Homo sapiens: one gene and its partners. The protein of the gene in region 1 interacts with the protein of each later gene in a pairwise test. Each region holds a gene or a part of one and is shown on either strand. Other genes may lie near its edges.

Evidence for each region.
Region 2: the proteins of PPL (region 1) and ZNF165 interact in binary tests that used the Homo sapiens proteins (3 or more experiments, as listed by UniProt).
Region 3: the proteins of PPL (region 1) and ZSCAN16 interact in binary tests that used the Homo sapiens proteins (3 or more experiments, as listed by UniProt).
Region 4: the proteins of PPL (region 1) and CEP57L1 interact in binary tests that used the Homo sapiens proteins (3 or more experiments, as listed by UniProt).
Region 5: the proteins of PPL (region 1) and KRT25 interact in binary tests that used the Homo sapiens proteins (3 or more experiments, as listed by UniProt).
Region 6: the proteins of PPL (region 1) and RAB3IP interact in binary tests that used the Homo sapiens proteins (3 or more experiments, as listed by UniProt).
Region 7: the proteins of PPL (region 1) and ZBTB26 interact in binary tests that used the Homo sapiens proteins (3 or more experiments, as listed by UniProt).

The regions. Positions count from the first base shown.
Region 1 is NC_000016.10:4,930,649-4,934,148, reverse strand, and holds part of PPL (periplakin), read left to right. Parts: intron 1-3,500. UniProt on the Homo sapiens protein: Component of the cornified envelope of keratinocytes. May link the cornified envelope to desmosomes and intermediate filaments. May act as a localization signal in PKB/AKT-mediated signaling.
Region 2 is NC_000006.12:28,086,816-28,090,063, forward strand, and holds the end of ZNF165 (zinc finger protein 165), read left to right. Parts: intron 1-1,747; coding exon 1,748-2,655; 3' UTR 2,656-2,748; downstream 2,749-3,248. UniProt on the Homo sapiens protein: May be involved in transcriptional regulation.
Region 3 is NC_000006.12:28,127,609-28,130,582, forward strand, and holds the end of ZSCAN16 (zinc finger and SCAN domain-containing protein 16), read left to right. Parts: intron 1-1,763; coding exon of another isoform or gene 1,764-1,821; coding exon 1,822-2,342; 3' UTR 2,343-2,474; downstream 2,475-2,974. UniProt on the Homo sapiens protein: May be involved in transcriptional regulation.
Region 4 is NC_000006.12:109,140,507-109,144,006, reverse strand, and holds part of CEP57L1 (centrosomal protein CEP57L1), read right to left. Parts: exon of another isoform or gene 3,332-3,500; intron 1-3,331. UniProt on the Homo sapiens protein: Centrosomal protein which may be required for microtubule attachment to centrosomes.
Region 5 is NC_000017.11:40,752,532-40,756,698, reverse strand, and holds the start of KRT25 (keratin, type I cytoskeletal 25), read left to right. Parts: upstream 1-1,367; 5' UTR 1,368-1,427; coding exon 1,428-1,856; intron 1,857-2,230; coding exon 2,231-2,313; intron 2,314-2,682; coding exon 2,683-2,839; intron 2,840-4,167. UniProt on the Homo sapiens protein: Essential for the proper assembly of type I and type II keratin protein complexes and formation of keratin intermediate filaments in the inner root sheath (irs). Plays a role in the cytoskeleton organization.
Region 6 is NC_000012.12:69,755,860-69,759,359, forward strand, and holds part of RAB3IP (rab-3A-interacting protein isoform alpha 1), read left to right. Parts: intron 1-545; coding exon 546-804; intron 805-3,500. UniProt on the Homo sapiens protein: Guanine nucleotide exchange factor (GEF) which may activate RAB8A and RAB8B. Promotes the exchange of GDP to GTP, converting inactive GDP-bound Rab proteins into their active GTP-bound form.
Region 7 is NC_000009.12:122,915,066-122,918,289, reverse strand, and holds the end of ZBTB26 (zinc finger and BTB domain-containing protein 26), read left to right. Parts: 3' UTR 1-2,724; downstream 2,725-3,224. UniProt on the Homo sapiens protein: May be involved in transcriptional regulation.

The DNA of each region.
Region 1 (3,500 bases):
GATGGTGCAGGTGACCGAGGACAGCCTCCAGCCTAGTAGAGAGGCCCTGGAGGAGACCCGCTGCCACCCTCCTGGCTGTGCGACCTCAGAGGAGCTGCTTGGCTTCTCTGAGCCTGTTTTCTCACCTGTGGGATGGGAATAAGCACGGTGCCTGCCTGGCGATGTTGGCTCAGGATTAAATGAAATAATGCAGGGGAAAGGTTGTGAATGATAAGCGGCCGCAGGTAATAGCATCTGTGACGATTACAGTTATTAAGCAAATGCGGGCAAGCTAGCTGTGGTGTACCCAGGGTTAAACTTGATATCATGGTGGACAGGCTGTGCACTGCACAATTCCATAGGCACTGTTGCTGGGTTTTAGCACGTGGTCGTGGAGGAGACGTGGACAACCTCCCTGCACTTGAGTCGCTGGCAGTCACATCACAGAGATAAGATGGAGTTAAGCTTCAGTACATGTATGGTTACATGAGCGTCGGACTGATGGGGCCAGGCAGGAGCAATGGAGCATAGAGCCGGACAGATGAGGTCTCCACCCTGGCCACTCACATACTTTGTGACAGGCCTCAAGTGAGAGTTGTCACAGTCAGAGCACAGATGCTGGGAGGTGAGGGAGGACTTCACAGAGGAGGCATCTGACCTGTCACGGGGTGGGATGGAGTGGCCAAGACCCAGCTCTGCAGTCAGGCTCAATTCTGCCTCTGCTTGAAAAGAAACATAGCATCCCTGAGCCCCAGCGCTTCTGAATTTGTTGAATGGGATTAATCTTGCCCCTCCACCCAGACCTGGGTCCCAGTAAACACCCAGCAGCCTGGCCTTGCCTAGACGGGTCTTGCAACACTGGGGCCGCCCTGATGGAGCGCTCCTGCATGGGAGGCAGGACCCCAGGCTTTGAGGGGAGAGCTGGCAAAAGGGAAGCATGCTCTACTGGGAGGCACCTGGGGTACCCTGAGCCTCTTAGTGGTTAAGAACACAGTGTTTTATTAGCTGGGCATGGGGGTGGGTGCCTGTAGTCCCAGCTACTCAGGAGGCTGAAGCAGGAGAATCCCTTGAACCTGGGAGGCAGAGGTTGCAGTGAGCTGAGATTGTGCTACTGCACTCCAGCCTGGGTAAAAGAGTGAGACTCTGTCTCAAAAAGAAAAAAAAAAAAGCAAGAACACAGTGTTTGATGCTAGCTGGGCATGAGTTCAGGCCGCAGCTCTGGGTCTCTTAAGCTGTTTGATCTTGGGCAAGTCACTTAATGTCTCCGAGCCTCAGTTTCTTCATCTATGAGGTGGGGTGACAACAGCAACCCCCAGTTGGTGAGGCTGCTGGGTAGATCAAATGAGGGGATGCACATGATGGGTCCAGCCCATGACCTGGTTCAGAGCGAGTGCCCGGCAAATCATAGCAGCCAATACTAGGAAGCACACACTGCTATTAAGAGTCATGACGGGCTGGGCGCGGTAGCTCACGCCTGTAATCCCAGCACTCTGAGAGGGTAAGGCGGACGGATCACTTGAGGTCAGGAGTTCAAGACCAGCCTGGCCAACATGGTGAAATCCCATCTCTACAAAAATAAATATTAAAAATTAGCTGGGTGTGGTGGCGGAAACCTGTAATCCCAGCCAGATACTGGGGAGGCTGAGGCAGGAGAATCACTTGAACCTGGGAGGCAGAGATTGCAGTGAGCCGAGATCACACCACTGCACTCCAGCCTGGGAGACAGAGCGAGACTCCGTCTCAAAAAAAAAAAAAAAAGATTCATGACTGAGCCAAGCCCAGAGCTGACCAGGGAGCTGACTCAAGCAGACACGCACATGCACCCATCGATCAGTGTTGGTAGGAACGCCTGATCGATATGGGAGGGGACCCATGTGGGTAACAGCTTAGAGAGAGCCGCCCCGCCATTTCTCAGGCACATACTGTGAGCCCAGCAAGGCCATGGATGTTACATCTCATTCTGACAGCGGGCCTGCCATGCAGGTGGAAGTGTCCTGTTTCACAGAGGGCTCACATTCACCTTGAGCTCACAGCTCACAAATGGCTGATGCTGGAAGTCCAGGGGGGCCTGGGGAAGCAAATGAGGCCTCCCCACTCGTACCTGGATCTGGCAGCAACTGTGCCTGGGGACTGCTCCAGGCCAAATGGTAGAGTCATTGGTGTTTGTGCTCACTGCCTCTACCCCCAGCAACCCCCTCTACCTCTCTTCTCTCTAGCTTTGCCCCTCCATCCCTTGCCCAGTTCTCTTGGAAGAAGGAATGAGACTGGATAAATTCGATTCAGGACAGAGCTGAGCTTACCTGGAGGAACAGCTGCTAATGGTAGCATTTCAGGCACTGTCGGGCGGATCATGTTGGGAAAGGGTATTTTGGGGGAGAGACTCAGCTCCGTCCACACCCTTTAAGCAATACCCTAAGGGTGTGGTTGGGGGAGGCCCTGGAAGTAGGGGACCTGGGGGAGAAGCTGCTTTAGAGAGCTTCCAAAGCTCCTCGTCTGGGGAAGAGAACCCTGGCTTCCCAGCGTGCAGCTGCTCTCTGCTCCCGGCAGGTCTGTGCCGGTGTTACCGGCACCACCTTGCATCCTCCCAGCCTGCCTGCCCCGGCCTGTCTTGGGAGCGAATGGGGAAACGGCCTCTGGTCTTTGTTCTCCCGGCTTCTGATGGGTTGCTGTGCTGCAGCCTCTGGAGCCCGGGAGGCCACCTGGTGCCCCTTTCTGCCTCCGGGTGGGACAAAGCTCTCTTCAGGTCCCAGCCCTGCCCTTCCCTACCCCAACCTATTTTTTTTAAGTGTTCTTTCTTTATTCTTTAGAGACAGGCTGTCACTGTATCACCCAGATTGGAGTGCAGTGGTGCGATCATAGCTCACTGTAGCCTTGAACTGCTGGGCTCAAGCAATCCTCATGCCTCAGCCTCCCAAGAAGCTGGGACTACAGGTGTGCACACCACCGTGCCCCGCTAATTTTTAATATTTGTAGAGATGGGGTCTCACTATATTGCCCACTCTGGTCCTGAACTCCTGGGCTCAAGTGAGCCTCTTGCCTTAGCCTCCCAAAGCACTGAGATTACAGCCATGAGCCACTGCACGCAGGCCCTTTCCCTTTAAATGGATCCCCACTTCTCCCTGCCTGCAGAGCCAGCAGCCCAGCAGGCCTCCAGTCCCTCTTCACTGTTCCTTCTTCCACTCCAGCGCTCCAGTCCCTTCTCCCCATGGCAGCCAGGGAGCTCCTTACGACATAAATCTGACCATACCTCCAGCTGCTTAACCCCTGCCCCAGACCTCTCTTTGCTCTTAGGCCCTGGGAGCTGGTGCCCTGCACATCAACATGTGCCTGTCACCGTCTTGTTTCCACGCTGTGCCCGGCCACAAGGCCTTTCCCTCTGCCATTCCTGTTGCCCAGAATGCCCCTCCCACCCCTTTTCACTGCTTCTCTTCCACTTCCAGGTTTACCTTCTGTTCCTCAGGGAAGCCTTCCCCAACCTCTCTGCTGGGGTAGATCCACCTATTCTATGGACTCCCCTTCTC
Region 2 (3,248 bases), on another chromosome or scaffold:
GAACATTTTTATGATATGACCAAATTAAAGGAAATAAAAGTGAATGAGTTGAGAAAATATCATGAAAAGAGAAAAGAAGGAAAAGAAAAAGAAATACATGGACAGAAGCAAAATATGTTCATAGAGAAGTACATATAATGATCAAGAGAAACAGATACATGATGATATACTGAGAAATAGTATATAATTCACAAGTAACATAGACCGTGATCCATATTTTTCCTGTTATGCTCTTGGTCTTATAAAGCTCTTTTACACTTTTATAGAAAGTTAGCTATAGTTCTAGAGACTACTTCCACAGAATACTCATCTCTGTTCTAAAACTCATCTATTTAAAAGATTCATAGATGCAGTATCACTTAAGGTGTGAATTGTCCCTATAGTAAACCCAAGAATAACTTACCGTTAATTTTTTGGTTTGTTTGTTTTGTTTTGTTTTGTTTTTCCTGACACAGAGTCTTGCTCTGTCACCTAGGCTGGAGTGCAGTGGCGTGATCTCAGCTCACTGCAACCTCCACCTCCTGGGTTCAAGCAATTATCCTGCCTCAGCCTCCCGAGTAGCTGAGATTACATGTGCCTGCCACCATGCCCGGCTAATTTTTGTATTTTTAGTAGAGACGGGGTTTCACCATGTTGGCCAGGCTGGTCTCAAACTCCTGACTTCGTGATCCGCCCGCCTTGGCCTCCCAGAGTGCTGGGATTACAGACATGAGCCACGGAGCCTGGCCACAATTAATTTTTAATAAATTTCTACATATTCTGCCTTCAGTTTTGTTCTGGAAACATCTCCATCTGTCGTATATAAAATTGTAAATTTCCCTCACCCCATGAACAGCACTCCCTAACCCTCTTTCCTGCCCTAGCGTATTGTAGACAAAGGACAGCTTATAATAAAGAAGGGCGGTTCAATTCCAGCACAGTATAGAGTGGGATTTGTGAAGACTGGATCATAAATGGATCTTGGAAACCAGGCTTGGGAATTTAGACTTGAACAAAAAAAGAGAGAGAGAGATTCAAGGTTTTTGAGTAGGGTATGAAAGGATGGCAGTGTTTAATGACCATTAGTCTAGTAAGGATCTTTAGGATAACTAGGAAGAAGAAAAGTGCAGAGTCAAAACAGCAAGGAGGCAGTTAAAGTCTAGATAGGAAATGGTAAGGTTCGAGACTATGGCGATGGTAGCAGAAATATAAAGGAAGGGATTTATACAAGGGACACTTAGTGGACAGTGATGACAGAATTTAGAAGACTGATTAACCATGGAATATGAGGAAGAAATAGACAATAGGTGGATGGAAGTTTTCTCACACATACTTCACAGTCACTTATAGCTTTACTTTTCTCTCTTGTGTTCTCATCTGCTTTCTTTGAGGTAGTGCCTCCATTTTCCCTCTAGAAATGTATCATAGACCCAAGGTTCCCAAGATCTGCTGCAGTCAACATTGTAGAGTTCCTTCTCCGTACTCTATCTCCCCCTATCTCTTGAGTTCTTGCTGATGACAATCCTCCCAATCTTTTCTAATATATATGCTTCACGTCTGATTCCTCTCTCTGCCAACCACTGCAGGCATTACTTGCTCTTACCAATGTTTCTTTCATTCCTATCATCCTCTTTCATTCTATCATTCCTCTCATGTGAAAGGTCATATATTAAAGTGGGCATATCAATATGTAACTATCTTGAGCATGCTATAAAATTTTCTTTTCGTGCAGCAAACAGGTAATATTTCCCTTTCTTTTTTATTTTAGATAATGAGAGTGAAAACAGTAGATCCATGCCAAAGCTGGAAATTTTTGAAAAAATTGAATCACAGAGAATTATATCTGGAAGAATCTCAGGATACATATCAGAAGCATCTGGTGAGTCTCAAGACATCTGTAAGTCTGCAGGCAGGGTAAAGAGACAATGGGAAAAAGAATCAGGGGAGTCTCAGAGACTCTCGTCTGCCCAGGATGAAGGTTTTGGTAAAATCCTCACCCACAAAAATACAGTCAGAGGTGAAATAATAAGCCACGATGGATGTGAGAGGAGATTAAATCTGAACTCAAATGAATTCACACACCAGAAATCTTGTAAACATGGTACCTGTGACCAGAGCTTCAAATGGAACTCAGATTTTATTAACCATCAAATAATTTATGCTGGAGAAAAAAATCACCAATATGGAAAATCTTTCAAGAGCCCAAAACTTGCTAAACATGCAGCAGTTTTCAGTGGAGATAAAACTCATCAGTGTAATGAATGTGGGAAAGCTTTCAGGCACAGCTCAAAACTTGCTAGGCATCAGAGAATCCACACTGGAGAGAGATGCTATGAATGTAATGAATGTGGGAAAAGCTTTGCAGAGAGCTCAGATCTTACTAGACATCGGCGAATTCACACTGGGGAAAGACCCTTTGGTTGCAAAGAATGTGGGAGAGCATTCAACCTGAACTCACATCTTATCAGGCATCAGAGAATTCACACCAGAGAGAAACCCTACGAGTGTAGTGAATGTGGGAAAACCTTCCGAGTGAGCTCACATCTTATTCGACACTTTAGAATTCACACTGGAGAAAAACCCTATGAATGCAGTGAGTGTGGAAGAGCCTTCAGTCAGAGCTCAAACCTTAGTCAACACCAGAGAATTCACATGAGGGAAAACCTATTAATGTAAGGAACTTAAATTTGTAAGTAAATGCTGAGGAAATGGCACAATATGAAAAATATTAAATAAAAAATAAATATTGGGCAAGATGGAAGACTGAAAGACCAGTTTCTGGTGTTCAATCTGTGTGTATGTGCTTTCTGTGAGACTGGGGATGTACCCCTTCTTTCATTGACTACTAAAGTCAAACCAAAAGAGCTACATTTAGGGGGGCTAATAGGGTAGTCTATGGCAGTGCAATGTAGAGAAATAGAGACTGTCTGGGGAAATAATCATGATTACAGTGTGGGAAGAAAAGGAAGATTTAGGTAAAGAGACTGATAATCAGTCCTAGTTTATTTTCCTAGTTAGTTTAGCACAAGAAGAGGTCAGCTAAACCCAGGAGTGAAATAGGTTGCACAGTGCACTGCAGAACAGTGTTTTCAGAGCATCCCTTTAAAAACTGAAGACCACAAAACTAAGATGCTCATGTTAAGTTAGAGAGTAATGTCAAATGAGGACATATGTAATGGTGGCATTCCTATATGAGGCCAAAATCTGTGTCCAGAGGTCATACCAGGAAGTAAAAAACCAGAAGAACACCCCAGGGAAGAGGCCAGAAT
Region 3 (2,974 bases), on another chromosome or scaffold:
ATAACACATTCCCATGATGAAAGAAGTAGGGAAGAGAGACAATGATCAGTCAATACAGCAAAGTTTCTTGTTTTTATCTGCATGTCAAATTAATTGGGTTTTATCCCCCATCCCAGCTCCCTAATTACAAACTAGGGTGTCTAGTGTATCCCCAGGCTACATTAAAAAGCTGGTGAATTTTAAATTCCAGTTTATCCAAACCCTACCTTTTTCAGTGCTCACCACCCTTTCTCTAGAGGCTCCCATGTCTAATAATGCCTCTCCGGGTAGTTCCTTATACTCTAGCCTATTTTGTATTCTTACTACTTAAGTTTTACCAATATCCCATCCTGTAGGATCCCTACCAGATGATTTGTCTAATCTGAAAAATTATTTTGAGCTAAGATGTTCCTAGCTGCTATCTGGAAAGGATGACATTTAATTATATGTAATGTAAAGAAGCCTTTCAGTGCTTTAACTCTAGGAGTGGAGTGCTGGTTACTGTTTGGCTTTAGAAGTGACGTTAAGAACCTCCTATCTGTTCTTTTTTATTTTTATTTTATTTTATTTTTTTTAGAGGAGAGGTCTCACTATGTTTCCCAGGCTTGTCTCAAACTCCTGGGCTCAAGTGATCTTTCCACCTTAGCTTCCCAAAGTGCTAGGATTATAAGCATGAGCCACTGTGCCTGGCTCAACCTGTCTTTTGATTCATTCATCTTTCACTGAGTATTTACTAAATAGCAGCTATATGCCAGACACTATACTAAATGTAAGGAATCCAAAGGTTAGACACTTACATTACTTCTCTTCAAGAAGCAGGAGAGTGAGCACTTACAATAGTGTAATAATTACCATACTAGAGATACACCGTGAACTACAAAGAGGATAGCTATCCCTGAGGTGCACCTGCAAAAATATCACAGAGTAGGCTTGCTTGAGCTGAGAAGGTCAGGTGGGAGCTGAAAGGGGGTGACATTTTAGGCAAAGAAACGGTGAAAAAAAATAGCATCAGAGAATAACATTCTAAGAATAGCAACTGCTCTGAGTTTGATTCTGATAAGGAGTCGTCTGTAGGAGGGAAAATCAGCAATGTGTGTTTTAATAAACGATCCAGCTGATTCTGATGCACAATAAGGTTAGAAACCACCGAGCTAGGATTTAGACAGGAGGTGATGACAGCAAGGACATCAGTTTCAGGAAAAAATATTTTACCCAGCATATACACTGACTATCCATTGTCATTTCCTATTCCTTTTCATTCCTCTATTTACTCTGACCTGCATGTTGTCATGCTTCCTGCTTCCAGCTAATTATTATCCTTCAAACACACTCCCCTCCTTGGATGGTTCCTATTCACTATATTCCTCTCAGACCCCAAATCCTATTATCCTCTCCATTCACTTTTACTTGATTTTACTTGCCACCTATGTTTCAGGCCCCTGCATGTTTCTCCCAAACTTTTACCTCCCTCCCCATCTCTGTTCTCCAGTCTCTCTAATTATCCTTGGCATATCTATAGTCCCCTCATTTATCCGTCTTCCCTTACATAGTATTGCTAACTTATCTCTTGAGCTCTATTTTTGCCTTTTCTTCTCTTAATCTACTCTCAAACAACTTGTTCTGCTGATATCTTCCTTAATTCTTAATTTCTTCCTTACATTGTGACTCTGTGCTATGATGATACCAAAAATAAGATGGTACCAAATATTTGATATGTGTGTTGTATGTGACTTCTCATTATTTTATAACACATTTATAACATTTACATGTTCTTTCTTCCATAGGCTGTTTGCTTCTCAAACATAGAATAGGACCCGTTTGTGTACTGTTTGTTTGTTACAGGTGATAAAACTAGGACTAAGAATGAAGAGTTGTTCCAGAAGGAAGATATGCCCAAAGACAAGGAATTCCTTGGGGAGATAAATGACAGACTGAACAAAGATACTCCTCAGCATCCTAAGTCCAAAGATATTATTGAAAATGAGGGCAGATCAGAATGGCAACAGAGGGAAAGAAGACGATATAAATGTGATGAATGTGGGAAAAGTTTCAGTCATAGCTCAGACCTTAGTAAACACAGGAGAACTCACACGGGAGAGAAGCCCTATAAATGTGATGAGTGTGGAAAAGCCTTCATTCAGCGCTCACATCTCATTGGACATCATAGAGTACACACGGGAGTAAAACCCTATAAATGTAAAGAATGTGGGAAAGACTTCAGTGGGCGCACAGGTCTTATTCAGCATCAGAGAATCCACACAGGTGAAAAACCCTATGAATGTGATGAGTGTGGAAGGCCTTTCCGAGTAAGTTCAGCTCTTATTAGACATCAAAGAATTCATACCGCAAATAAACTCTACTAATATAGCAGTAATATCAAAAGTTCTTTGGACACTCAGGCCTAACTAGTTATCAAAGAATCTATTTTAGAAACCTTGAGTTTCCTCAATGTGGTCAAAGCTTCAGTCATCATTAAACTTCTCTGGACCAAAGAATCTACCTGAGTAAAATATCCTTTTATTTCAAATTAGTTCAGTTTTGAGGGGGAATCAAGAATTCTTTCAGAAAGCCTTGTCCACTGACAACACTGCTCACCTGCAGCCCAAGATCAATGGTTCCTGGATGAAAGACAGTGAATTAATTCTGTCTCTGCTCCAGGTCCTTTTTAGTTGACCATTCAGTGTCTGACTTTAGGCAAGACAAGACATACACATTTTTCTCTGCCTTCATTTCCCCTTCTGTAAAGTACAGATGATAATAGAGGCTTACCAGGTATGTTTCGACAAGTTAAAACTGATGAAAACTACTTTTGAGATTAAGATATAAAACAATGCTAATTATTTGTTTTCCACCATTACTCATATAATAGCCTCAACATCCCTTTTTTATCTTAAAATGGGGAGTATGATTATTTTTTGGAAATTTTTGTTTGCCAATGATAAAGAATAAGCCATCAGAAGACAGGAGGCCAGCCTGGTCAACACAGCGAGACACC
Region 4 (3,500 bases), on another chromosome or scaffold:
ATCTAAGTTGTTGTTCCCTCAAAAAACAAGAGATCAACATTAGTCACAGCTGGCTCACTATAAAGTGGAGGTAAGGCCCTAAAGTACGTAAATCCTGAAGATGGTTGTACATCTTCAGAGAGAGGTAAGTTGTTAAAGCTATCCCAAGAATACTGGAGCTACTCAAGAAATCTGACTTAGTTTTCAGCTCCGGGTGGGTTTCTCCAATGACATAAAGAATGAAATTTTGCTATTTGTCACTACACACTGAAGTCCTTGGGAGGTCTCTGCTTCCTCTGACCTAAGTATAATATTATTTCACAAACCGGATTTTGTACCAGTTAAAAAACTGGTCCAAATTTGAGGTTTTTAATGTATATGAAATAATGACTAGTTAGAAGATTGCCAGTAAGTTAAAAAGTAGACTACAGTTTATTTAAATTAAATGTGTAGACACATATTAAAGTGGGCACAAGCAGAATAATCCACTGATAGGATAAAAACAAGATGAAGAAAAAGAAAGAAAACAGTAAAGAGATGAGAGGACAAGTTATGTTGTGACACAGAGCTCAGAGATTCTCATTGTAATGGGATCTCAGCTTAACCTTTATAATCTGGTCCTGTGTTGTAAACAAGTGCATAAGCCTACTGGAAGCTTATTTATATAAAGCACTGAAGCATCCTGGGAGAAAAACTCACTCTGAAAGAAGGTGAAGTAACTACAAAAGGCTTGATCCAAAATAAAAGCCTTAAATGACTAAGGAAAGGAGGAGTGATTCTGAGTAGACTATGATGGTGGTCATTCTAATTTATCTCTGACCTAGTGCCATGGACTCATATGTGGGTTCTAAAAAGAGAGAGAGTTTAAATAAAAACTGAGAAATGTTTCACCAATATCTCTATAAAATATCAAGGCATTAGCTTCCCTGCTTTGTGTAAGATGTTACATGACAATGGAGGGGGAGTCAGATTGCTAACACAGTTTTGGCCCCTTTCTGGTGCATCAGTTAGTAGTATTCAGTGAGAGAGAGAGAGAGAGAGAGAGAGAGAGAGAGAGAGAGAGAGAGAGAGAGAGAGAGAGCAAGAGAGACAGTGAACAAGAGTGAGAAAGCGAGAGAGCAACAGAGAAACAGAGAGAGCACAGATGGAAGGGATACATTCATGGGCACATATGAGAAATATTTCTAGGGAAAAATTTCTGAAAATACAGAGAAGTACCTAAATCACAATCTCTAGGATTCCGGTATTTCTGATACCAGACTTAGCTAGCTGTTGGTAACTGAAAAGACCTCAGGAATTCTTATGGAACATTTTATAGGTGTCTTCAAGTAAGGGCAAAAGGCTATAAAATGTGAACCTCATTTGTATCAAGCCTGAGAAACTCAAGTTGTACCTTTTTTTTTTTTCTTAAAATTTTTATTTATTTTTTCTTTATTTATTCTAACAACAAACAAACAAAAAATGGAATACATGTGCAGAACGTGCAGGTTTGTTACATAGGTATACATGTGCCATATTAGTTTGCTGCACCTATTGACTCGTCCTCTAAGTTCCCTCCCCTTACCACCCACAGGCCCTGGTGTATGTTGTTCCCCTCTCTGTGTCCAGGTGTTCTCAATGTTCAACTCCCACTTATGAGTGAGAACATGCAGTGTTTGGTTTTCTGTTCCTGTGTTAGGTTGCCAAGGATGATGGCTTCCAGCTCCATCCATGTCTCTGCCAAGGACATGATCTCATTCCTTTTTATGGCTGCATAGTATTCCATGGAATATATGTACCACATTTTCTTTATCTAGTCTATCATTGATGGGCATTTGGGTTGGTTTTCCTGAAACCATTCTTGACAGCTTGTGAACAACCAGGGAAATTACTCACTGTTTTTATGGTTTATAAAATTAAGATACCCCAATTGGCTGCAACTAAGAACCCATTGCATAAAAAAACTATCCCCCTAAAAAGAATGCTCTAGACACAAACACTTTACTGCAAAGCATTTTTACTTTTTATAGAGGAAAACACTTATTCCATAGGACTGCTAGGGAGACGACATTAGGGGGCAGTCAGAGATACTATAGAAGACTTTTGAAATAAAGGAATCTCTGTTTGCTGTAACTGCTACTTCTTCCAAGTTTGGATTTTTCCTTAGAGAAACTGAAGAAGGATCAACAGCTCAGTTTCTTTGATCTGTTTTTTTCTTTATGTATGCATCTATGCTAACTTACCTTAAGAGCAAACACAGTAAGGCTGGACTAACTCTTTTATTTTTTAATGTATAGTACTTTAGGAAGTACTATAACTTATTATATCTTATTATTATCTTATTATAACTGAATAAGATAATTTGTGGTGGTGGAACTTACTTATAGATATCCCATAATAATTATATAATGTATTATTTATAATATAAAATCACCAAAATGTTAAGATGTGACAATAAAAACTGGTCAATAGAAACTAGTAAATACACGAATGTAACATAAATACTTCAATGGGATTCAGCTATTCATTTGTTGATCATCCAATAAATGATGTTAGAAAAATTGGGGAAACACTTTGGGAGGGAGAGGTGGGCGGATCATGAGGTCAGGAGTTCGAGACCAACCTGGCCAACAGTGAAACCCTGTCACTACTAAAAATACAAAAAATTAGCCAGGCGTGGTGGTGGATGCCTGTAATCCTAGCTACTTGGGAGGCTGAGGCAGAAGAATCACTTGAACCTGGGAGGTGGAGGCTGCAGTGAGCCGAGATTGCGCCACTACACACTAGCACAGGCAACAATGTGAGACTGTGTCTCAAAAACAAAAGAAAAAAATGGGGAAAAAATCCATTTAAGGCTTCATCTTGCCCCATACATCAATACAAATTTCAGATAGCTACAGAGTCAAATAAAGAAAACGCAGCTGGGCGCGGTGGCTCATGTCTGTAATCCCAGCACTTTGGGAGGCCGAGGCGGGCGGATTACGAGGTCAGGAGATCGAGACCATCTTGGCCAACATGGTGAAACCTCATCTCTACTAAAAACACAAAAAATTAGCCGGGTGTGGTGGTGGGCGCCCGTAGTCCCAGCTACTCAGGAGGCTGAGGCAGGAGAATGGCGTCAACCCGGGAGGCGGAGCTTGCAGTGAGCCGAGATCGCACCGCTGCACTCCAGCCTGGGCAACAGAGCGAGAATCCATCTAAATAAATAAATAAATAAAAAACTCTAAAAATTATTTTAAGAAATCAGTGAATATTAAATAACCTTAGAATAGGTAAGATATTCTATGTTTAAAAGTAACAGAAAAATAAAGGAAAAGATACAAAAGCTCTGTTAAAATTAATACAACATATAAGGCCGGGCGCGGTGGCTCACCTCTAATCCTAGCACTTTGAGGGGCTGAGGCAGGCGGATCACGAGGTCAGGAGTTCGAGACCAGCCTGGCCAGCATGGTGAAACCCCGTCTCTCTTAAAAATACAAAAATTAGCCAGGCATGGTGGCGCACACCTGTAGACCCAGCTACTCGGGTGGCTGAGGCAGGAG
Region 5 (4,167 bases), on another chromosome or scaffold:
AAATTTTGGTCAAAGAATACAAAATTTCATTTAGGTGGGAAGAATAAGTTCAGGATAACTATTGTACAATATGGTGACTATAGTTAATAACAATAAGAAAGTAGATTTTAAATGTTCTTACCACAAAATAGGTATGTGAGGTAATAGATATGTTAATTAGCTTGATTTGGTCATTACACAATATATTCATATATCAAAAAATCATGTCGTGCACCATAAATATATACAATTTTTATTTCTCATTTTTTTTTTTTTGAGGCAGAGTCTCATTCTGTCACTCTGGCTGGAGTGCAGTGACACAATCTTAGCTCACTGTAACCTCTGCCTCCCAGGTTCAATTGATTCTCTTGCCTCAGCCTCCCGAGTAGCTGGGATTACAGGCACCTCGCCATGATGCCTGGCTAATTTTTGTATTTTTAGTAGAGATGGGGTTTCACCATGTTGGTGAGGCTGGTCTCAAATGCCTGACCTCAAGTGATCCACCTGCCTCAGCCTCCCAAAGTGCTAGGATTACAGGCGTAAGCCACTGTGCCTGGCCTTATTTGTCAATTTTTTATATTTCCATAATAGGTAGAGTTTTCAGTAAATATATGTGAATTCCCACCGACTAAATACCTTACTGATGACTTTCATCTGAGCTAAACCACAATAAATTAAGACAGAAAAAATAGTTCCTACCAGGTTTGCTTCAGATTTTGCAGGGTCAGGAAATAAGTTAATGTCTTTCCAAACTCCCACAAAACATAACACCAATTAGGGGTGTGCTCCTAATTACCAAAATGGATAAGGTAAGACAACTCTCCTCAGTCATAAGTGTCAACAGAATATGATGCTCATGTCAGCCAGAATGGAAGTTAACTTCCCATGGGAAAGAGTGGCAAGAGGAATTTAAAAATAAAAACAAAAACCTATTGGTTGAAGAACCAGGTTGGGGAAATGATTACAGTTCTATTCTCTACTTATGTGGAAAAACTTGTGAAAATAAAAGCAGAAAAAGCCTCAGAAACATCACAATCTGCCTTGGCATAATAGCCCAAAACCATGATGCTAAATTTCTATCCTGTAATGAGCTGATGAGGTTTACTTCCAAGGATGGAAGTGAAGAATGACTCACTCAGCATTTAAAAACGTAATAATGAACCTGACATTGCTCCACCCAGACCCATTTCTCAGATAACCACCAACCTGAGGGCAACTGCCCTCCTACAGGAATGAGCCCAGCAAAGTGAGTTACTAATTAGAAAAAATCACCCAATTATGCCAACTTGCTGAGACTGGCAAGCCATGTTTTACTCTGTGTAGGCAGAATTTCATTCAGAACACACTTGGGACTTGCCTATAAAAAGGCAAACCAAACCTTTTAGACAAGAAGGCACTCCATTCTGGCTTTCACAAATACAGCTCTGCAACGCGTTTGCCCTGATACCATGTCTCTTCGACTTTCCAGTGCATCCAGGAGGTCCTGTCCTCGTCCCACCACTGGATCACTCAGACTCTATGGTGGGGGAACCAGCTTTGGTACTGGAAATTCTTGTGGCATTTCAGGGATTGGAAGTGGCTTCTCTAGTGCCTTCGGAGGCAGCTCATCGGGAGGAAACACAGGGGGAGGTAATCCCTGTGCTGGCTTCACTGTGAATGAGCGGGGGCTCCTTTCTGGCAATGAGAAGGTGACCATGCAGAACCTCAATGACCGCCTGGCATCCTACCTGGACAGTGTGCATGCTCTGGAGGAGGCCAACGCTGACCTGGAGCAGAAGATCAAGGGCTGGTATGAGAAATTTGGGCCTGGCTCTTGCCGTGGTCTTGATCATGACTATAGCAGATATTTCCCAATAATTGATGACCTTAAAAATCAGGTAAGAAATCATACTGCACAATCATTTTCATGTACCTTTATTTCTAAATTTTGTTTTCCTTTCTTTATTAAATTCTAAAAACATTTATCATTCCTACTTGTGATTTTTTTTTTTTTTTTTTTTTGAGAAGGAGTTTTGCTCTTGTTGCCCAGGCTGGAGTGCAACCGTGGGATCTTGGCTCACTGCAACCTCCACCTCCTGGGTTCAAGAGATTCTCCTGCCTCAGCCTCCCAAGTAGCTGGGATTACAGGTGCCTGCCACCATGCCCTCCTACTTGTGATTTCTTAAAGAGAATTCCAATTTAGCATTAGAAATAAGCATTAAGTAGATTCAGTTGGTTTACTTCATGATAAAAGTCAAATTCCCATTTCTAGATCATCGCATCCACCACCAGCAATGCTAATGCTGTTCTGCAGATCGATAATGCCAGGCTTACAGCTGATGATTTCAGACTCAAGTAAGTAGACTGCCAGAGTGAAATGAATTCATGGCAATTCATGCAACGCATTACATCAAATTTAGCAACTCTTATTCCAAAATTATAAAACACTTGAATTTCACATAAACAGGATGTTATTACTTTTTTATGCTTTGACTATTAAATACAAAGCATGAACTGCTATTAAAACTAGCGCCCAATACCCTAGTTCTTTTTCTGTCAAATACTGCAAAGTAGAAACAATAATTATTATACAACAAGCTTTGAAAATGCCTCTTGTGGCCAAATCTTCAAAATTCCAGAATGCTAGCATTTGTCATTGATCAGTGACTAGTGACTATGTCTCCAACCATGTGACAAATTAGGAAATCATTAACACTCTTTAAGGTATGAAAATGAGCTGGCTCTTCACCAGAGTGTAGAGGCTGATGTCAATGGGTTACGAAGAGTTTTGGATGAAATAACCCTGTGCAGAACAGATCTGGAGATTCAGTATGAAACCCTGAGTGAGGAGATGACTTACCTCAAAAAGAACCATAAAGAGGTAAGAGCTGGTCGTCTACATTTTGCTATCCCTCCGCAGACACTGTGCACCTGACAGGAGATAATGTACATAACCTCTCATATAAAAAGTTGGTGCTGAAGACACATTGTCAGACAGACATGAGGGCTGAGCTGTCTTTTTTTTTTTTTTTTTTTTTTTTTTTTTTTTTTTTTTTTGAGACGGAGTCTCGCTCTGCCGTCCAGGCTGAAGTGCAATGGTGCGATCTTGGCTCACTGCAAGCTCCGCCTCCTGGGTTCACGGCATTCTCCTGCCTCAGCCTCCCGAGTAGCTGGGACTACAGGCGCCCGGCTAATTTTATGTATTTTTAGTAGAGACGGGGTTTCACTGTGTAAGCCAGGATGGTCTCGATCTCCTGACCTCGTGATCCACCTGCCTCAGCCTCCCAAAGTGCTGGGATTACAGGCGTGAGCCACCGCACCCGGCCTGAGCTGTCTTTTTAAGTGTCAGATTCTTTGTACAGATTCACCCTTGCTCTCTCATCAAGTTTCCTATGGGGAAAAAAAAAAACGAATCATGTTTTCCAGACCAATCAGGGTTATAAGAGCAGTGTTTGGCTGTGTAATTATAACTAAGTTAAAATGATCCGCTTTGGACATTAAGTCTAATTAGATAAAATAAATATAAAATAAATATACTTTAAGGCCATCCTTAAACTAGAAAACTAGATCTCAATTTCTAAATGACAGTGGCAGATTTAAAACACTAAAACATTTACTTCATACACACATTAAGTATACATACTTAACGCTAGTACATATTCTTAATAGGTCTGGCTGTAAAAATAATGAGCATGAAGTTAAACTATTATACCAGAATTTACACTTAATCATAAACTTCCAAAGTGGTCACTGTTGGAAGCTAAGTTCCAAATTTTATATTGCAGCAATTACATCTTTAGGATTGCTTTCAGAGGCACTGTTTTCCAAAAGGGAAAAATCTTTATCCTTTGAAAATAAATTTGATATTTTAAATAGCCAAAAGACTTCTATGGTCAAGCCAAATGCTTAAAACAGAAGATCAAGCTAAGAATCCTACTTGATTAGTCATGAGGCTGTCTTATAAATATAACTACTTGAATAACATTGATTTGACTACGTGGATTCAAATATAGTTACAGCCCATGGTGTTTAATCAATTTTTGATGAATCAAAAGCAATTGATTTTTGTAATGCCTCATTTACAGGCAACCCTAGATATAGATATAGATATAGATATATAGATATAGATGATATACATATATCTTTTTTTATCTTTTTCTTTTTATGCTTGAACCAGGAAGTTTTCACTAAATCCTCAGAAGTAAAAGC
Region 6 (3,500 bases), on another chromosome or scaffold:
TTGCAAGCCATGCAGTCTCTGTTGCAACTATTCAACTCTGCCTTTAGAGTTTGAAAGCAGCCATAGACAGTATGTAAATGAATGAGAGTGGTTGTGTTCCAATAAAACTTCATATATGGATGCAGAATTTTGAATTTCATTTAATTTTCATGTGTCACAAAATATTCTTTTAAAGATTTCTTTTCAACTATTTGAAATTGTAAAAACTATACTTGGCTCATTGATACCTTATAAAAACGGGTGGAAGGCTTGGTTTAGCCTGTAGGCTATAGTTTGTTAACCCCTGCTCTTGAGTAGCACTGTCCTGTAGAACTTTCTGTGTTGATGAAAATGTTCTATTTCTGTGCTATCTAATATGAATGATAGGTATTAACCACATGTAGCTATTGAGCACTTGAAATGTGGCTGATATGACTGAGGACATACTATTTATTTAAATATAGAAGCTACCAAATTGGGTAGTACAGTTCTAGAGCTGTGTGTTTAAGCCAGTTCTATTGGAGCATATGCTGATATTTTCTGAAAAATGTCTCTCTCCTTTACAGCTTTCATGTTACAGACCCAGCCCCTTGCTCTACCTCTGGAGTCACAGCTGGATTAACTAAATTAACTACAAGAAAGGACAACTATAATGCAGAGAGAGAGTTTTTACAGGGTGCTACTATAACAGAGGCTTGCGATGGCAGTGATGATATTTTTGGGTTGAGTACTGATAGTCTGTCTCGTTTACGAAGCCCATCTGTTTTGGAAGTTAGAGAAAAGGGCTATGAACGATTAAAAGAAGAACTCGCAAAAGCTCAGAGGGTAAGAAAGAAGATATTTTATTCTTCCATATATTATATTAGAAATTAGTATTTCTCCATGGGGTGGGGCAACCTGCAGAAATGAAATCATGATGGTTGTACATTTATCCGTCACATATGCCCAGCCTCAGCTCCTGTTAGGCAGCATTTAGGAATCCGTGAAACTGGTTGGGTAGTAAAGAAGTTCCTCTAAGACTACTAACTGGAAAAATGTGGCTCTGTTAACTCTTCTGTGCCCCACTGCATTGCCTGCTCCCTGTCTCGTATTATCTGTAATGCAGATTGAGTGGGCTATATTCCACATGCAGGGTTTTTCCTTCTTACTACATGGCTGACTAAATGGTTATTTACTTGAAGTCACTCAGTCTAAGTCATTTTGTTTTGAGTTTAAGCTGAGTTTGAATATTTTCTGTATCTTACCTTGGAGAATTTTCTTGGTAAATTGTTGTGTTTCCCATTTGGTCATTTTAAAAGTTTCTGCTATTTATTTCCAAACTTGTGGCCATATCTTATTCTTTTTCTGAGTCTGCAGTTAAATTTCAGAGGAAAATTTATAGAATGAAATGCATACATCAGAAAACAGGAAAAGTCTCAAATGGACAATCTAAGCTCCCACTTTAAGAATCTGTAAAAAGAAGAGCAAAATAAAACCAGAGCAAGTAGAAGGAAGGAAATAATAAAGAGCAAAAATCAATGAAATTGATAACAGAAAAAATAGAGAAAATGAGTGAGACAAAATGTTGGTTCTTTAAGAAGATTAATAAAATTGCAAACCTCTAGCAAGACTGACAAAAAGAAGACAGATTTATCAGTAGCAGGAGTGAAATGCAGGATGTCACTGGAGACTCATATCAAAAGTATAATGGAATGATATGAAAAACTGCATATATAAACCTGACAACCTAGGTGAAATACCAATTCACATGTAGAAAATTGAGAAGGTAGGGCAAACATTTATAGGTGTAATATCCAACCTACCATGACATTTCACAAATGTATTCCCACTCTTTCCCTAGCATACTTGTCTCTCATGAGCGTAGTATATTCATTTTTTTAATCCCCAGTTCCTTCCCAAAGGAAAAGGATGTGGTGAGATGTGGTTGCATTTTGTTTCTGTCATCTGGCTCAGACTTTGTTGTCTTAATAGATAGTATTTTATTAAAATCACACATTATATAGAGGTAAAATTTTGAGTATATGTATCCATCTTTGAGAACACATGGTTATTGATCAGAACAGATTGCTAATTTCTTAGCTCACTTGAGAATTTCCTTTGAAATCTCTAATATGCTGTATTTAGAGATACTGTTTGGATAATTGAAATGGTGATGTGTAAACACATATGTGGTGACTTTTATGAAGAGTATAAGTTAGTATTAATATTTACTTAGATCTCAAGGCTTGAAAAGGACTCTTGAATATAAAAATACTTCCTGAATTGTGACAACTTGTGAATCAAACTATGTCAACAGCCATTTTCTTTAGTCTTATCTTAAGAGAGGCCATTTTCTATACTTTTTACTTACTTGGTTAACTGTGTCTTCCTATTTAATACGAGTTTCTTATAGATAGTGTACAGTTAGGTCTTGTTCTTTTGATCCTTTGTAATTATCTCTGTCTTTTAATTGGTGTTTAGACCATTTACATTTAATGGATAATGGTATAGTTTGGTTTAAATTTACCATCTTACTGTTTGTTTTCTGTTTGTCTCATTTGTTCCTTTTTCCCTTTTGTATCCTTTCTTTTGAATTAATTCTGTATTTTTAAAACAATTTCATCTTCCTGTGGCTTTTATCTTTGTTGCTTTAGCGTTTATAGTAGACATATTTAACTTATCACTCTCTACCTTCCGGTGATATATTACTTTACATCTGGTGTACAAACCTTACAAAAGTATACTTTTATTTTTCCCCTCCTAGTTTTTGTGCAATAATTGTTGTATGTTTCACTTCTTTGTGTGTTTAAACCCCACAAAACACTATTGTTTTGCATTAAACAGTATTATCTTTTAAAGAGACTTAAATAATAACAAAGAATCTTTACATAGATAAACATCAGAAATGTTAGCTACATGGGCATCTGTGTGTTCATTCCTTTTTTTTTTTTTTTTTTTTTTTTTACAAGTTTTACTTTTATTTTTGAATGATAGTTTAACGGGGCATACAATTCTAGGTTGATGGTTGTTTTTTTTTTTCTCAACAAACACTTTCATAATTTTACGTCTTTGTCTTCCGGCATCTATCATTGTTGATGAGAAGCCAGCTGTCAATGTAGTTGTCATTCCTTTGTAGATAATTGGTTTTCTTCCTCCTTCTGGTCACTTCTAAGATTTTTTTTTTTTAATTGATCATTCTTGGGTGTTTCTCGCAGAGGGGGATTTGGCAGGGTCATAGGACAATAGTGGAGGGAAGGTCAGCAGATAAACAAGTGAACAAAGGTCTCTGGTTTTCCTAGGCAGAGGACCCTGCGGCCTTCCGCAGTGTTTGTGTCCCTGGGTACTTGAGATTAGGGAGTGGTGATGACTCTTAACGAGCGTGCTGCCTTCAAGCATCTGTTTAACAAAGCACATCTTGCACCGCCCTTAATCCATTTAACCCTGAGTGGACACAGCACATGTTTCAGAGAGCACAGGGTTGGGGGTAAGGTCATAGATCAACAGCATCCCAAGGCAGAAGAATTTTTCTTAGTACAGAACAA
Region 7 (3,224 bases), on another chromosome or scaffold:
AGGTACCAACAAGTTAATAACGTCACCTACTCTCCACTAATAGATGCTATGCTAAGAGAAGTGAATAATCTTTCTTTGGTAGAAAATAGGCTGAGATATAAGGTGATATTGCTATTGACCTGAAAATGTGATAGAACTTCTGGTTGCCTATTGATTATTCCTCCATGTCTGATAAATGAATCTGCTTCCTACCATTTGTACTTGTCTTGGAGCTGGCTATAAAGAAGTATGCTGGTTTGTTATGTACTCTTTTCAACAGTATCATAGCCCAACTTCATCTCATTGAATTGTTCACATATACCAGAGTACTCTCTCTTGAGGAACACCTGCAGGCAGATAGTTAGGGATGACCATGAGGAGCATAATCAACAGGGATAGAAGTACACTTATACAACAGCACTTACATGGGCGGTTTCTCTGGTAGCATGTCCCATAAGAGGCCATATGCTTATAATTAATGTGTAACTTGTTGATGCTTTTGAGATCAGGACTGCTCCAGGCACGCTAAAAATGTGCTAAAGTATAGTGGGCTCTCTAAAAAGAGGCTATTTGGGAGTCTCTGAATTTTGTTTCAGAGTTTAGCCATCAGAAAGGTGAGTTTGGCCATCAGAGTTTTGTCCTGTGCACCATAAAAGTCTCTGAATTTTCGTTTCCTCATGTACCTTAATTTCTAAAACGGATGATAAAAGTTAGGTTGGACACAGAAGGGGCAATCAAATTTCTGTATTCAGATACCTCTTAAAGGTACACTGTGCCACCTTGCTGCCTTTGATTGCAAATACAAAGTTAATTTTCAAAAAGGAAAAACAAAACAGCTCTTTTTCCTAAAACACATGTTGTACTTCAGACCTAAAATTCTAAGTCTTATTTGTTTCTCACCCATGAGTTAGATTTAGGTAATAGTATTAGTAGAGTCCTTAGAGAATCTTAAGAGGTCATTTACTCCACCTCTTTCATTTTAAATTGGGGTATCCAAAGCCTGAAGAGGTGGCCTGGCCAATATTGACCAAGGTATAACTAAATATGAGCTAGCATCTTCTTCCTTCTTCTCGCTATCCCTTGGCTTTAAAAGATTTAGTACATGAAGAATAATGCATTAGCAAAAAGCTCCTAGTTTGTGTTTCCCCTTTGTGTCTCCCTGTTGGCTTTCTGAGACAACCTGAATTTTGCCAACAAAATATCGCAGAGGGATTTATATTAATTATTTTTTAGTTAGATGAATATTATATTCTTCCCATCCAAGTGAGTGATTTGCTAGGTTTGTTTAGGGAGGGAAAAAGCAAGAATAATGTGAGAAGAATCTAAATGCGAAGTTGATTTTGTGTGGAAAACTGTTTATTAGTTTCCATCAGGATTTTCTGTTTTTATTTTTGAGCTATGAGAGTGCATGCAGATTTGAAAAATTAGGCTTGCATAGTCAGAGGGGATCTTCAATTGTTATATTTGATACGTTTACATGTATCATTGTTATCATATGTAAATTATCATCATGTGAGTCAGATGTGAAGTATGATTTTTGTCTTTTGTTCAAATATTTAAAATGATAATACAGTTGAGTGGTAAGACTAATAGGTACCTTATGCCTAACATCACTCATTATATGGTCTAATGATGCTTCCTAGCATTGTGATTTTTACATGATCCAGCCAAAGAGTACCAATTCTATGCAATAGTGAGACTCTACCCTGTCAACCAAACAGCATTTTTTGGTATTTTCTGTCAACATCATTTCTTCACAGGGAAATTTCAAGTTGGAGTGCTTCGTTTGCTCACATTCATGTCTTGTTTTTGTTACTGGTTTGAAGACTAAAAGGCACGGGTTCAAATAAGATTGGTCTCTTTGGTTGGAGACTATTTCTGGGTTCATTCAGTTGTTCAAGAAACATTAGTTAAGCACCTACTGTTGCTAGACACTATGCTAGATACTGAGGATAATGAAGGTAAGATTGATATAGTCCCTGCCCTCATGGAGCTTATAGTCTCATGTGGTCTTAGTGAAACAAAGTCTCAATTTGCTTTTATACTAGAAATAATAAAGAAAGCTGCCTTGCTGTATTCGATCAGTTAAAATCAGCAACTTTGTGCTTTTGTATCAGTAAAACATTTAGTTCTCACCTTTTGAAAATGCAAACCACTGAAGTGATTTACAGTCTCCTCCATTTTTGGCTGGAGAGGTGTTCTGTTTCTGTGAGACATTTTTCTAATTTTTGTGGAACTTCACTTTCCTCCTTCTTTGCTTATACGTGTTTGTTAGATTATATTGCAAAGAAGTCAAGTTACTGATATCCAGTATTTTACAGAGGAAGATGACTTTCAAAACTAGTCATATTTCTGTAGAGGAGGAAGATTTTTAAAACCTTTATCATTCAGCATTTGTATTTTATGGATCCCCAGGAGAACTAAAAAGGAGATGACTCTCTACCATAGTTTGGTTTAAAAAAAAATTACTCTGTCAGTTATTTATTTATTATTTAATACTAAACTCCAAACTGAAGTGGCTCTGAGGTAAATCAGATATGATTTTAATTTAAGTTTCTTTATTAGCAGATCTATAAATGGAAGGTGACCAATGTCACTGCTTCTAAAATACTGTCCTAAACAACCCAGAAGATTTTATTTCAGCTCATGAATAGCTGTTCTAAATCTGTTGTATGTTAGACATACTATGAACTACCTCTTCACTTATTATGGGGAAGTTTCCTTAATAAAAGTGTGACGATTAAAGCTCTGGTGTCATTGGTTATTTTCTCACTCTCCCCTCCTTCTATTCTTTTTTAATTGCTTTACTTTGAATACAGGAAGGTCTTCTTTATGTATAGTCTTAAAAATACATATTAAGCATGCTGAGCTTGCCTTCAGAAAAAAATACGAATTAATCAGAAAGTTGTTACTAGATTCATTTACTTCCACGAGAACCTGTTGCTGGAGGAGCAGAGCAACTGCCTTTAAGAATTGGTTCAGAGGCGGCCGGGCGCGGTGGCTCACGCCTGTAATCCCAGCACTTTGGGAGGCCGAGGCGGGTGGATCACAAGGTCAGGAGATCGAGACCATCCTGGCTAACACGGTGAAACCCCGTCTCTACTAAAAATACAAAAAATTAGCCGGGCCTGGTGGCAGGGCATTAGTCCCAGCTACTCGGGAGGCTGAGGCAGGAGAATGGCGTGAACCCGAGAGGCGGAGCTTGCAGTGAGCCAAGATCGCACCACTGCACTCCAGTCTGGGCG